Homo sapiens: one gene and its partners. The protein of the gene in region 3 interacts with the protein of the main gene of each other region in a pairwise test. Each region holds a gene or a part of one and is shown on either strand. Other genes may lie near its edges.

What was found. Proteins that work in one complex are often made in the same cells at the same time.
Region 1: the proteins of NME1 (region 3) and TNPO2 interact in binary tests that used the Homo sapiens proteins (3 or more experiments, as listed by UniProt).
Region 2: the proteins of NME1 (region 3) and FXR2 interact in binary tests that used the Homo sapiens proteins (3 or more experiments, as listed by UniProt).
Region 4: the proteins of NME1 (region 3) and STRAP interact in binary tests that used the Homo sapiens proteins (3 or more experiments, as listed by UniProt).

What each region holds. Positions count from the first base shown.
Region 1 is NC_000019.10:12,713,933-12,717,784, reverse strand, and holds part of TNPO2 (transportin-2), read left to right. Parts: intron 1-2,045; coding exon 2,046-2,152; intron 2,153-2,246; coding exon 2,247-2,380; intron 2,381-2,460; coding exon 2,461-2,542; intron 2,543-2,615; coding exon 2,616-2,738; intron 2,739-2,845; coding exon 2,846-2,964; intron 2,965-3,852. UniProt on the Homo sapiens protein: Probably functions in nuclear protein import as nuclear transport receptor. Serves as receptor for nuclear localization signals (NLS) in cargo substrates.
Region 2 is NC_000017.11:7,608,398-7,612,249, reverse strand, and holds part of FXR2 (RNA-binding protein FXR2), read left to right. Parts: intron 1-976; exon of another isoform or gene 977-1,069; intron 1,070-3,852. UniProt on the Homo sapiens protein: mRNA-binding protein that acts as a regulator of mRNAs translation and/or stability, and which is required for adult hippocampal neurogenesis. Specifically binds to AU-rich elements (AREs) in the 3'-UTR of target mRNAs.
Region 3 is NC_000017.11:51,156,559-51,159,613, forward strand, and holds part of NME1 (nucleoside diphosphate kinase A), read left to right. Parts: intron 1-3,055. UniProt on the Homo sapiens protein: Major role in the synthesis of nucleoside triphosphates other than ATP. The ATP gamma phosphate is transferred to the NDP beta phosphate via a ping-pong mechanism, using a phosphorylated active-site intermediate.
Region 4 is NC_000012.12:15,888,535-15,892,386, forward strand, and holds part of STRAP (serine-threonine kinase receptor-associated protein), read left to right. Parts: intron 1-1,393; coding exon 1,394-1,475; intron 1,476-2,062; coding exon 2,063-2,135; intron 2,136-3,852. UniProt on the Homo sapiens protein: The SMN complex catalyzes the assembly of small nuclear ribonucleoproteins (snRNPs), the building blocks of the spliceosome, and thereby plays an important role in the splicing of cellular pre-mRNAs.

The DNA of each region.
Region 1 (3,852 bases), on a different chromosome or scaffold from region 3:
GAATTGCTTGAGCCCGGGAGGCAGAGGTTGCAGTAAGCCAAGATAATGCCACTGTACTCTATCCTGGGCAACAGACTGAGATTCCATCTCAAAAATAAAAAGTAACTTTTAGTCCTGCAAAAACCCCCTCCCAGGCCAGTAGTAGGATGTGGACTTCCTGAGCTCATTCTATGTGCCAGGCTCTTTGCTAAGTCATTGAAACTTACTGATCCAGGCTGAGCACAGTGGCTCACGCCTCTAATCCCAGCACCTTGGGAGGCTGAGGCAGGTGGATCACCTGAGGTCAGGAGTTCGAGACCAGCCTGGCCAACATGGTGAAACTCTATCTCTACTAAAAATACAAAAATTTGCTGAGTGTGGCAGCGGGCACCTGTAATCCCAGCTGCTTCAGAGGCTGAGGCAGGGGAATTACCTGAACTCGGGAGGTGGAGGTTGCAGTGAGCCAAGATTGTGCCACTGCACTCCAGCCTGGACTACAGAGTGAGACTCCATCTCAAAAAAAAAAAAAAAAAAAAAGAGAGAAAAAGAAACCTACTGATAACCTTAGTTAGGAGGCTGGTTTTCTTTATCTCTTCTGAGGGCTGGAAGCACTGAGGCACACAGAATGAGGGGGTGTGGCTAAAGTTCCACAATCCTCACTGTGTACCTACCCATTGCAGGGAGCACCTTTCTCTCGTTGAGTTTCCACCCTTGGGAAACACTGCCATCTCATGGCAGCAAATACCATCTCTGCACTTAACAGAACCCATATCCAGCTCTGTCACCAGATATGTGCACTGTCCTGGCACCTCAGATGCCTGCTGTATGTAACTCCTGGATATCTAATAGGCAGTACAAGCATCCCTGCCACCTTCCTGCCCTTACCTCCTTTCCCTCTCTCATCATGCCTGTCCTTACGCCAGGCCTTTGCACCATAGAGTCCCCTGCCTCAGATGCCCTTTCCCCAGAAACCTGGATGATTCCTCCCTCGCCTCCTTCACCTCCTTCAGGCCTTGGCTCAGATATCAAGATGTCACCTCAACGAGGCCTGCTCTGGCCACCCAATTTAAAGTTGCTACCTTCACCTACAGCCCTTTCTCACCATCTTTTCTGCTGTATTTCCCCCCTTAGTCCTTGGCATGTGGCCCCTCCCAGTTGTTTGTTTTTGTTTTGTTTGTTTTTGAAATGGAGTCTTGCTCCATCCCAGGCTGGAGTGCTGTGGCGCGATCTCTGCTCACTGCAACCTCTGCCTCCCAGGTTCAAGTGATTCTCCTGCCTCGGCCTCCCAAGTAGCTGGGATTACTGGTGCCCCCCACCACACCCAGCTAATTTTTGTATTTTTAGTAGAGATGGGGTTTCACCATGTTGGCCAGGCTGGTTTCGAACTCCTGACCTCAAGTGATCCACCCACCTCGGTCCCCCAAAGTGCTGGGATTACAGGCATGAGCCACCCATGCACGGCCCCTCCCAGTTTTTTTTGCTAATTTATCTTTACTTCATAGCTTGCTTCCAGCTCCCAAGGGTGAGGATTTTGTGTTTTGCTCTGTGCTGTGCCTCAGGGCCTGGAACAGAGTTGACTCACAGTAAGGCTCAGGGTGCCTACTGAGTCAAGGAGTACCCTTCTACCTATGTCAAGGCCAGGAGCGGTGGCTCACGCCTGTAATCTCAGTGCTTTTGGAGGCCAAGGCAGGAGGATTGCTTGAGGCCAGGAGTTTTAGGCCAGCCTGGGCAACATAGTGAGATCCCATCTCTACAAACAATTTTAAAAATTAGTTGGGCGTGGTGGCATGTGCCTGCAGTCCCAGCTACTTAGGAGGCTGAGGCAGGAAGATGGCTTGAGGCCAGGAGTTTGAGGCTGCTGTGGACTATTGATTGTGCCACAGCAGTCCAGCCTGGGCAACAGAGCTAATTCTATCTCTTACAAAGAAAAAAAAAAGGAGGGGGGATGTAGAGGGCGTACATGGGCTAGGGAACAGAAAGGCAGCACTGGGGGTGTCCAGTGGGAGGGGGAGGTGCTAGGCAGCCCCTGCCCAGCCTCAGGCAGCGTCCTTTCCCGGCCGCCCCAGGCATTCTCATCACCACCATCGCTTCCAAGGGTGAGCTGCAGATGTGGCCCGAGCTGCTGCCCCAGCTCTGCAACCTGCTTAACTCGGAGGATTACAACACTTGTGAGGTAGGCAAGAAGCCATGGATGGCCAGAGCGAGTACTGGGGGGCTGGGACCACCACCCACCACCCACGTTTGTCTCTCTGCCCCTCTGCACTCAGGGAGCCTTTGGAGCCCTGCAGAAGATCTGTGAAGACTCATCAGAGCTTCTGGACAGTGACGCCCTCAACAGGCCCCTCAACATCATGATCCCCAAGTTCCTGCAGTTCTTCAAGCACTGCAGTCCCAAGATCCGGTGGGTGCAGCTCCCTGGGGGCTTCCAGGGAGCCTGGAGTGGGCAGGGTCAGGGTGACCCACGTGTCTGCTCCCCGCCAGGTCCCACGCCATCGCCTGCGTGAACCAGTTCATCATGGACCGGGCCCAGGCGCTGATGGACAATATTGACACCTTCATCGAGGTGGGCCGCTGGGCTGGGGGTGGGCAGGGCGAGGACTGAGGGCCCCTACAACTGACCCTGTTCCTCCCTGCAGCACCTATTTGCCCTGGCTGTGGATGATGACCCCGAGGTGCGGAAGAATGTGTGCCGTGCCCTGGTGATGCTTCTGGAAGTGCGGATTGACAGGCTCATCCCCCACATGCACAGCATCATCCAGGTGTGCATGGTCAAGGCCAGCCCAGGCGGGCAGGCAGGGGGCCGGTGGCAGGGGTCAGGGAGCCACCCCCAGCCAGGCCAGGCCTCAGCTTCTCCCCCCTACCACAGTACATGCTGCAGAGGACCCAGGACCATGATGAGAACGTTGCCCTTGAGGCCTGTGAGTTCTGGCTGACGCTGGCCGAGCAGCCCATCTGCAAGGAAGTCCTGGCCTCCCATCTGGTCCAGTGAGTGCTGCTGCTGCCCACTGTCCTACCCCAGCTTCGACCCCTTGCTATGCCTCTGCCTTCCCTTCTGGTCACCTGCTGTGCTTCTCTCAGTCCACATCCTTGTCAGTTTACATTCAGTATATATTTATGTGTAAGTGGTAAGAATGCCACTTTTTGAAGACTTCAAAATTAGGTAACTGATAGGTGGAAAGAAATGAAAAATCAATGGCCACATGTGGTGGCTGACACCTGTAATCCTAGCACTTTGGGAGGCCGAGGCGGGCAGATCACAAGGTCAGAAGATCGAGACCAGCCTGGCTAACACGGTGAAACCCCATTTCTACTAAAAATATAAAAAAATAGCTGGGCGTGGTGGCAGGCGCCTGTAGTCCCAGCTGCTTGGGAGGGTGAGGCAGGAGAATTGCTTGAACCCAGGAGGCTGAGGTTGTAGTGAGCCAAGGTCGTGCCACTGCACTCCAGCCTGGGTGACAGAGCAAAACTCCGTCTCAAAAAAAAAAAAAAAAGAAATGAAAAATCAACAAAGGCTTCAGGGGTATGGCTGTATCCAGGAGCTCAAAGGATGTGAAAGGCATCTTTGTGGTCTCAGATCTGCTTCCCTTGTGTTGGCTTCATTCTTAGGCACAACCTTCCCTCTGGGTAGTGCTGTAGCCTTCTGTGCCCTTCCAGCTTAGGAACTTCAGAGTAAAGAAATTTTCGACCAGTGTTTCCAACAAAAGTCCTAAAACTGACCCTCCTTGACAAACTTGGATTGCTTGCCTCTCTCCAAATCATTTTTTTCTTTTTTATTTTGAGACAAGGTTTTGCTCTGTCATCCACGCTGGAGTGGAGTGTCAAAATCATGGCTCACTGCAGCCTTGACCTCCCAGCTGAAGCAATCCTCCTACC
Region 2 (3,852 bases), about 44 Mb from region 3:
TCCAAGAAAAGTGATTCTTAAGTTGAGTCCAAGATCAAGATATGATGTTTGCTTTGTTCTAGGAAGCGTAGGAGCCCTGCACAGCTGAGAAAGATTGGTATCCAGTTCAAATGAACTGTATGAGATGGCTGGGAAGGGACACGTTTTCTGTCCCACATATAAGTGTCCAGCAGAAAGTCTCTCTGAATCTTTTCCCTTTCTCCTGTGTGCTGTGGCAGTGATAGACTTGAATAGATGGGGACCAGGATACTGTGATTCAGAGAGTAGAGTTTGGGGTTGAGCTGAAAGCCAGGTAATGTGGTAATGTGGATCTGGGCAGGTTAGCATTTTCTGCCCTGTTCCTGAGTTAAAAACCACAAATCCCTAAATTCAGGCTAATCTTCCACTCTCAGTACCCTACAGATACTTATCCGTTTTGACCTTGCTGCTGATTTAATATTCATGACTCAGCAAACTTGGGATGGGTCAGGGAGTATTTACACTGCTTCTGGAATTGTACATTTGGGAAGGTCCCTTTCTCCTCTCTCAGAATTGGGCCCTGTTGTCAGTTTTCTTTTCTTTCTTTTCCTTTTTTTTTTATTTGAGACAGGGTCTCCCTCTGTCATCCAGGCTGGAGTACAGTGGCGTGATGTCGTCTCACTGCAGCCTCCGCCTCCCAGGTTCAAGTGATTCTTGTGCCTCAGCCTCCCGAGTAGCTGGGATTACAGGTGTGCAACACCATGCCTGGCTAATTTTTGTATTTTCAGTAGAGACGGGGTTTCGCTATGTTGGCCAGGCTGGTTTCTGACTCCTGACTTCAAGAGATTCGCCCGCCTTGGCCTCCCAAGGTGCTGGGATTACAGGCGTGAGCCACCACGCCCTCCCGTCAGTTTTCTTAAAGGATAAAATATTAGATCTGGGATCTAAGTTATTTTGTAGCTATCTGAAAATTAAGTTTGTCAGAATTTACTCTTTTTTTCCGTCCTTTTTTTTTTCATGTCAGACTGGCATCCGTAACAAGGGTTGAGGGAGGCATACCTCACCGTGAGCTTGAAACCGCAGTCATCATGCTTAAGACGTACAAAATGGCTTAAGACGTACAAAATGGCCTAATGTATTTTATTCTTTAAGTTGTACTCTCCCAAATGAAGTATTCACCGTCCAGGGCGCAATCTTCCTACTCCAAACCTCATCTGGATATCCTAATCCCCATTCCTTTCTTAATCAACATGGCATCCTCAGCTTCAGTACTTGGTTTTTACTCAGACTGTTCCTGCTCTTCTCCTAGAACCCCCTCCTTTGCTTTGGGAGTCTAGAACTAGAAGACGGTGAAGGTGGGGACCAATTTTATATCTTCTAATTTGAGGAAACCAAAGTACCTAGGAACCTGGGGCTCTCTCTTCCTCTGCTGGCTTGGTGCCAGGCTCCAGAAGCCAAAGCCAGGTGATGCTATGGCCACTGAATCAAGTTATCCTCTGGATCTAGGTGGCTCCCTAATACATTCCACCCACCTGCTCTTGCCTTCACCTGCTTATTTTCACAATGAGCGTAGACTGAGCAGAACTTGGGGCTCACTTCCACCACAGATACCCTTGGAGAAAAAAACTAGTATGGGATGAATGGGTGGAATTTAGGAGCAGAGACAGGATTGGAATATGAAGTTGGGGACAGAGCTAGTTTTGGAGACTAATTGAAGGAAAAAGACCCTGGAAATATAAGGGTTGAGTGAGATTTGGTTGAACTGCTGAGTAATGTGAGAGATTACTCCATTCTGAGCTTTGCATTTCTGCCTTGGAAGTCATGGTAGCTGGGAAAACTAGGGTAATATTGCTGCTCACCCTGGGGCCAAGCCTAACATGGTGGAGGAGAATTGGATTACACCATAGGCATAGCCGATTTGAATATATCTAGGAGTAGAAATCTCTCCACAAAAGCAGTAAATTAGTGATTCTCATCTCTGTCTCTTTTCCACTTCTTTCTGTCAGTGTAACTCCTGCCTTGATAAACTACTTCTAAGGCTTGGAGTAGACATTTTGGGTAAAGAACTGGATAAAGTCAGCGGAAGAGGCTGGTTGGAATAATTCTAGAAATCCAGACGACCCTGCAGCCTCTGCCTCCTGGCTTCAAGTGATTCTCATATCTCAGCCACCCTGAATAGCTGAGGTTACAGCCATGTGCCACCACGCCTGGCTAATTTATATATATGTGTGTGTGTGTGTGTGTATATATATACATACATGTATACATATACATGTATATATATATGTATACATATACATGTATATATATATGTATACATATACATGTATATATATGTATACATATACATGTATATATATACATATACATGTATATATACATATATATGTATGTGTATATATATGTATATGTATACATATATATATAGTAGCAATGGGGTTTTGCCATATTGGCCAGACTGGTCTCGAACTCCTGGCCTCAGCTGATCTACCGACCTCGGCCTCCAAGTGTTGGGATTACAGGGAAAAGAAGAGGGAATGGATAAAATATTAGTGGTTGTGGGAGTGGGGAGGACACTTGAGCAGGAGCTAAGGGAAGAACCCAAAAGGGAAGAGAGACCCAGGCAAGTAGAAGTAAAAGTGCCTCAGAAGACTTGAATGGAGAACAGTAGGAGTTGGCATTAAACCTGAATGAACATGCTCATAACTCAGGTTCTTTTTGAAAAAGGAAAAAAATCTGAATGAAGAGTAGAAAAAACATTTCTGGAGAAGAGAATGTCAGAGAAAGAAAAAGCATGGGTAAAAAAGAGGCCAGGAAGTACCAGTAGTAATTAAAGCCTTGGGCAGTAGTAAGGCTCTAAGAAAGAACATTCAGTCAAGAATGATCTTGACTGACTGCAGCCTCTATAGCAAGACATATCCCTAAAGACGAGAAAGGTGGCTTGTATGAAGAGTGAAATGCAGGCTTAGATTTTCCCATCGTAAGGAAATAGCAATCTGGTAAGTGTTTGTGATTGATTAGTTCTATGAGGTGGGAGCTGTGCATTTGCCAAGGGCATTTTTGGTGTTTTCTCTCCTAAGCTTAGCCTTTGTCCCTAGCAGCAAAGCTCATGAATAGTTCTTGTGTATTAGCCTTTTGAAACCTCTAATTCTTTTATTTTTGTTTATTTATTTTGTTTTTTGAGTCACGGTCTTGCTGTGTTGCCCAAGCTATGGAGTGCAGTGGTGCAATCACAGCTCATCACAGCCTCGACCTCCCTGGCTCAAGTGATCCTCCCACCTTAGCCTCCTAAATAGCTGGGACTACAGGCACAAGCCATCATACCCTGCTAATTTATAAATTTTTTGCAGAGATGAGGTTTCCCTGTGTTGTATGGGCTCTCTAATTTTTTTAAAAAACATCTTTATTGAGCTGAAATTGACATACAACAAAGTAGACATATTTAAAGTGTGCCATTTGTTAAGTTTTGACATGTATGTAACTGAGTCCATCACTGCAATCAAAGGAATGAACATTTCTGTCACTCCCAAAAGTCCTCCATCAACTACCAATCTTCTGTCATTATACATTAAATTGCCCTTCCTGATTTTCGATAGAAATGAAAAGGCAGTTCAATTCAGCTAAGAAAGGATAGTCTTGTCTTTTCTTTTCTTCTTTTCTTCTTTTTTTTTTTTTGAGGCAGAGTTTGCCCTGTTGTCCAGGCTGCAGTGCGATGGCATGATCTTGACTGACTGCAGTCTCTAACTCCTGGCTTCAAGTGATTTTCATGCCTCAGCCACCCTGAATAACTGAGGTTACAGCCATGTGCCACCACGCCTGGCTAATTTATATATTATTATTATTATTATTTTTTTTTTTTTTTAGTAGCAATGGGATTTTGCCATATTGGCCAGA
Region 3 (3,055 bases):
TGCCTGTAATCCCAGCTATTCGGCAGGCTGAGACATAAGAATTGCTTGAACCAGCCAGGTGCGGTGGCTCATACCTGTAATCCTAGCATTTTGGGAGGCTGAGGCGGGCGGATCACCTGAGGTCAGGAGTTCGAGACAGCCTGACCAATATGATGAAACCCCGTCTCTACTAAAAATACAAAAATTAGCCAGGCGTGGTGGCATGCGCCTGTAATCCCAGCTACTCGGGAGGCTGAGACAGGAGAATCGCTTGAACTGGGGAGGTGGAGGTTGCAGTGACCGAGATCGCATCATTGCACTCCAGCCTGTGCAACAAGAGCAAAACTCCATCTCCAAAAAAAAAAAAAAAAAAGAATTGCTTTTGAACCCAGGAGGCGGAGGTTTCAGTGAGCCGATATTGCACCACACTGCAGCCTGGGCAACAGAGGGAGGGAGACTCTGTCTCAAAAAAAAAAAAAGAATTCCAATTCTCAAATCAAATAGGGGATAGTATGTTTTCTAAAAGGGAATCAATTTTGGACCCTTCTAGTGCATTTTAAAATTTAGTTTGACTTGCAATTTACTTCCTATGTGATATTTTAGAAAAACTGCTTTAGGGCTGGCACAGTGACTCGCCTGTCATCCCAGCACTTTGGGAGGCTCCGTCTCCAAAAAAAAAGAAAAAAAAGAAAAGAAAAACTGCTTTAATGTAAAAGAGGGTAGACTGATGTTCATGCTGAGAGGAGAATATGGTGTCCAAGGTCAAGGAGCTGGCATCTAATGAAGGTTTTCTTGCTGTATCATCCCATGACAGAATGGAATAGCAAGAGAGTGCAAGAGTGAGAGAGAGCAAGAGGGGGCTGATGTTGATTTTATAACAAACCCACTCCTGAGATAAGACATTAATCTGTTCATGAGGGTGAAGCCCTCATGACCTAAACACCTCCCATTAGGCCTCACCTCCCAACATTGTTGCATCGAGGATTAAATTTCCAACATACGAACTTTGGGGGACACATTCAGATCACAGCAGAAGGTAACATGAGATGGATGTGTTGTTGATCAGGCATTTACCATATGCTGGGCACATATGTTTTCTGATTTAGTCTTCATGCCAGCCTTGAGAAGTACTTACTCCTGTTCTCGTGGTTGTTAGTGATGAGCAACCTAAGGCTTGGAGAGGTTCAGTGATGTGCCTGATAGCATACAGTGATGCCACTGGAATTTTAACTTGAGTCTCTCTGACCCCTGAGTGCAGATACTTTCTCCTTTACATTGAATTTCCTATTAAGGATATATGGGTTTGGTGAAGAATGGACGGAAGGATAGCTGCCATGACTCTAAAGGGGCATTTAAATCTGGTGTGGAGGCAGGAAGCAAGGGAGAACTTGAGGTTCCCAACCCCCAAGCCCTTAAAAAAAGCCCGTGATCTGTTTTGCAGACTAAAGATAATCAGTTAGGGCCTGGCGTGGTGGCTCACACCTGTAATCCCAGCATTTTGGGAGGTCAAGGTGGGTGGATCATCTGAGGTCAGGAGATGGAGACCAGCCTGGCCAACGTGGTGAAACCCCGTCTCTACTAAAAATACAAAATTTAGCTGGGTGTGATGGCGCATGCCTGTAGTCCCAGCTACCAGGGAGGCTGAGGCGAGAGGATGGCTTGAACTCGGGAGGTGGAGGTTGCAGTGAGCGGAGATCGAGCCACTGCACTCCAGCCTGGGTAACAGAGCAAGACCCTGTCTCAAAAAAAGATAATTAGCCGGGTGTAGTGGTGCACACCTGTAGTCCTAGCTACTGAGAATCTGAGGCAAGAGGATTGCTTGAGCCTGGGAGTTTGAGGCCGCAGTGAGCTATGATCATGCCATTGCACTCCAGCCTGGGTGACAGAAAGACCCTGTCTCAAAACAAACAACAAAACCAACAAAAAGATAATTGGAACCAATTAATAGAATTAAAAAAGTATTCTGATAAGGGAAGGTCACCTCAGGGTCTGTTAGACTTCCACAACAAAAGTCTTCCATTTGGATAGGAAAGGACAGGGCGAGGGTTGGATCCCTACCACGGAGTGATTATATGGCCATGTAATTTTACTTTGGCAAGTGATGATAACTGGTGGCTGAATGATGGGGCTTCTGGGCAGCCAGTCTCCACATCTGTGTGTGTCTCTGATGTGTGTGATATGCGTCATACAGTGCAGTACCACAGAGCTGGAAAAACCATGGGACCCTGTTAGATTTTAACAAGCGTATATGCAGTACAAGAGAGAACACAGCCAAACTGAGTTGAAACTGCTAAGCAGATGGTTTGTTCTCTAGCTAACTTGATTCGTTCCCACATATTAGCCTTGCAGTATGAGAGGTTCTAATTCATTTTTCAGCAAAATTATTTATTACTAGATGTCATGCACTTTTGGGTGATTTGCAGATACCTTTGGTAATCACATGGTCATCACTGCTGGGCTTTTATCCTCTGAATAAACGTGAAGCATCCCTGGGTAATGGCCTGGTTTAGTTTGCTGCTCATTAAATGCCAAGACTTGCTTCCTGGTGTCCTTCTAACATTTTATTTGGGGTTTGCTCTGGGAATGGAAATTTATTGTATTGTTGATTTTCCTGTCTAAAATGAGATAGTTGAGGGCCAGGCATGGTGGGTCACGCCTGTAAGCCCAGCACTTTGGGAGGCGGAGGCTGGAGGATCACTTGAGTCCAGGAGTTTGAGACCAGCCTGGGCAACATAGTGAGACCCTATCTCTACAAATAATTTTTTAAAATTAGCCAGGTATGGCTGGGCGCGGTGGCTTACGCCCGTAGTCCCGGCCCTTTGGGAGGCCAAGGCAGGCAGATCACCTGCGGTCACCTGAGACCAGCCTGGCCAACATGGCGAAACCCTGTTTCTACTAAAAATACAAAAATTGGCCAGGCATGATGGCCGCCACCTGTAATCCCAGCTACTTGGGAGGCTGAGGCAGGAGAATCACTTGAACCCAGGAGGTGGAGGTTGCAGTAAGTCAGGATCACGCCACTGCACTCCAGCCTGGGTGACAGAGGGAGACTCTGTCTCAAAATAAATAAATAAAT
Region 4 (3,852 bases), on a different chromosome or scaffold from region 3:
GGTAGTGTATCATGAGCATTCCTGTTAGATGGTCTTTCATATTCATTAACCACATTGCACATGCTATTAATGCTTATCTAGAATAGCCTTCCCTTCTTTTTCCCCTGATATATTTCTCTTTGCTTCTTCCGACGGCTAGCTCTGTTACTTACATTTTCTGGACAATATCTAGGTGCTTTTTTCTGAGTTTTTATAGCCATATATATGTCTTTTAATTATATTTCTTAAATGTGATATTTAATGCATGTTTTTCTCCTCAGCTAAAGCTCTACTATGGCAAGAACCTACTGTGGGGTATTTTTTGTCTCCCATTTGTGCCTTAGCACTAAGTATAGAATGATATATATTTAATATATTTTATTATGTATTGGGGTAAGCAAAAGAAAAGATACATCTTGCTTTTCTCTGATTTTTTTCCCTCTACCATTTTATTGCCCACTGTGTTCCTGAAAATAAATAGCAGTTGCATTAAAATGGAAATCTCTATGGAACATAGCTTTTTCACTCTTAGCAATTCTTTTCCCTGTCTGCAAAGTTTTCTTGTTTATTTTTCACTGACCTGTTCTGATCTAAAATCAACTTTTTTTTCCCCCTTCCTTAAGCTTTTTTATTTGGGGGAACCCTTTTAGAGTAATTTTGTAAAGTATTGCTCAACTATTACCCGCCCAGAATATACATACACATATAAATGTATGTATACCTATAACCAACTTGTATTTTGGGGTGGGGTGGGACAGAAAAAACAATGTAAAGATTAAAATAGTCAGTGTTAGCATTATATAATCAAAGGCTGATAGTTTGGGGGAAGTTAACTGTACTAGAGTTTGAAATTTTAAGTCAGCTTTGAAGAAGAGATGAAGTGGACATTGTCTCTCCACTATCTTAATTTAAAATTTTACTTAGCCTGTACCAAGGCTTTTCATTCCCTTGTAACATTTTTAAGGATTTCTGGTTTTTTTATTTATTTTTATTTTTTATTGTGCATCTGAGTGGAGAATAGAGAAAAAATTGGCATGGTGAAACTAAAAATTGGTTAAAATGTATGACAGGCTTGCTAAAGGGATATTATGGCTGTCAGCTAAAATAAAAGTAAGGAGGATGGGTTGGTTCATGAATCTTACTTGCTTAAATTGTTCATATCTTTTCCACTGTCAAAGAAAATTAGATTGGTTATAAAGTTTTTACAGAGAAATTTCTTTTCCCTTAAGCTTATTTAAATATTTTATCAAATGAAGTCTGTGAGGGATATTAGAGATAAAGGAGATTTATAATACATTTATGTAACATTTCACATATCTAACTTATTTGGTACTCATCAATATTATAATTGTATTTATCCTTTTAATATATTGGGTAATATTTATCCTACTAATTTTCTCTTTTTTACTTTTAGCAAAGTGTGGGATGCTGTCTCAGGAGATGAATTGATGACCCTGGCTCATAAACACATTGTCAAGACTGTGGATTTCACGCAGGTATCAGAAAATGGAATTTATTTTAGCGAGTTAAGTTGCTGGTACATAGTGTGATAATGCTTTTATACTTGATTGGTGTGTATATTTGATTGATATGTTTTGTGTGGAATATTTGTTATTTCTTGGTTCATATTTGATTTGATTGTGTATTAAGCTCTATGAATTTGTTTCATAGTTAATCCTGTCAAGCTTTTAAGATACTGTGGAACGAGTACCAGTCCTTCAACATGTAAAAAACATCTGAAAAGCTCAAGTAGCCTTCCCCAACTACTAATAGAAGGGAGAAGATAAATTTGAGATAATCAGAAAAGGGCCTCTCACAAGGGAGAGGAGTAGGATCAGGGGAGAATGGGAGAGTTCATGTATATGTAGTGTAGTGTAACGCTTTTGAAGTGGAAAGCTTACAAGTCTTGGCAGTTATGAGAGGTCAGCTGTTCCACAGTATCTTCTCAGAAGTAATTGGTTATGTCTTGGCATCTCTTTGTGATGTCTGTGAGCTAGATTTTGATTTTATTTGGTGTTGAAATTTGAAAGAGAAATAACTATTAAAATGGTTAATCTATTCACATTTTACTTTGTGTTTTCAGGATAGTAATTATTTGTTAACCGGGGGACAGGATAAACTGTTACGCATATATGACTTGAACAAACCTGAAGCAGGTAAGCATAATTTAAACATCAGCTTCTAGTTTTATTTTCTTTTAATTTAAATAACTGATTAAAGAATTTCATGCTCAGTACTCAAATTTGGAAAATAAAGATAGTCATGGCCGGGCACGGTGGCTCATACCTGTAATCCTAGCACTTTGGGAGACTGAGGCGGGTGGATCACTTGAGGTCAGGAGTTCGAGACCAGCCTGGCCAACATGGCAAAACCCCGTCTCTATTAAAAATAGAAAAATTAGCCAGGCATGGTGGCAGGCGCTTGTAATCCCAGCTACTTGGGAGGCTGAGGCAGGAGAATCGCTTGAACCCGGGAGGTGGAGGTTGCAGTGAGCCGAGATTGCGCCACTGCACTCCAGCCTGGGCAATAAGAGTGAAACTCAGTTTCAAAAAAAAAAAAATAGTCAACAAAGAAGAAAATTAAAACGTAATTCATCAGTTTTTGGTTTATAAACTTTCAGTCTTTTTTTCTGCACAGTTTTTAAAAAATAAGTTTATTTGCTATGTTGCTATTGTATAACCTTCTTCCAAACTGAAAATTTATTATGGCAAATTTTTATCATTAAGTTTTAAAACAGTGCAGAACAGTGTTACTATTTTTTGGTAAGAAAGATTGGTTATTTATAGAAGTTGGTGATGGTGAGAATTCTCAGTTGTGTGCACATATTGCTTAGATTTTTGAACCATGTAAATATATTAGCTATTCGAAAGAATTTTAAAAAATCTGCAGTTACAGTTTTTTCATTTCACTAAATAGTCTATGAACTGTTTGTAATGACTTTCTGGTTTTCCATCCTGTGGTTATATCATAAGTGAATTAACTAGTTTCCTGTTTTGGCCCGTTTGGGCTACTTACAGATTTTAAATATGAAAAGCAGTATTATGCTAAACATCCTTACAGTTGCAAATATTTTCACAATGATTTCCTTAAGATAACTAAGCAAAAGTAGAATTGGTGGGACAAAGAGGAGTGGAATTGTTGGAAGGTGGCCGGGCGCAGTGGCTCACGCCTGTAATCCCAGTGCTTTGGGAGGCCAAGGTGAGTGGATCACCTGAGGTCAGGAGTTCAATACCAGCCTGGCCAACATGGTGAAACCCCATCTCTACTAAAAGTACAAAAAAATTAGCTGGGCATGGTGGCAGGCGCCTGTAATTCCCAGGTACTCAGGAGGGTGAGGCAGGAGAATCGCTTGAACCCGGGAGGTAGAGGTTGCAGTGAGCCGAGATTGCATACCAGCCTGGGGGACAAGAGCAAAACTCCTTCTCAAAAAGAAAAAAAAAAAATGAATTGTTGGAAGCCATTGATAGATACTACCAAAGTGTCTTCCAACAAAGTATGGGTATATATGTATGTATCTATACCCAACATGTTCTAGTGAGCACTGATAACTAACTTTCTCTTTGTCAATTTAAGAAAATAATTCTGTTGTATTAATGTGAATATTCATGAGATTAAAATGCTATTGAATACCATTTTAATATATTCCCTTTTTTATGGAATAATTGCCTGTCTACCTTTTGTCCATTTATCTGTTGTGTTATTCATGTTTTTCTTACTGGTTTTTAAAGGTTCTTTATTGAATTCTAATTTATCATTTGCTTTTAAATTTTGTTAAGGTGGTTTTATGGTATATATGTTTTTAACATTTTGGTGGTGAAATTCTTTATGCATTCTCTCATTTTACAGAAGTTATAGGTGTCTTCCCCAGTCTAC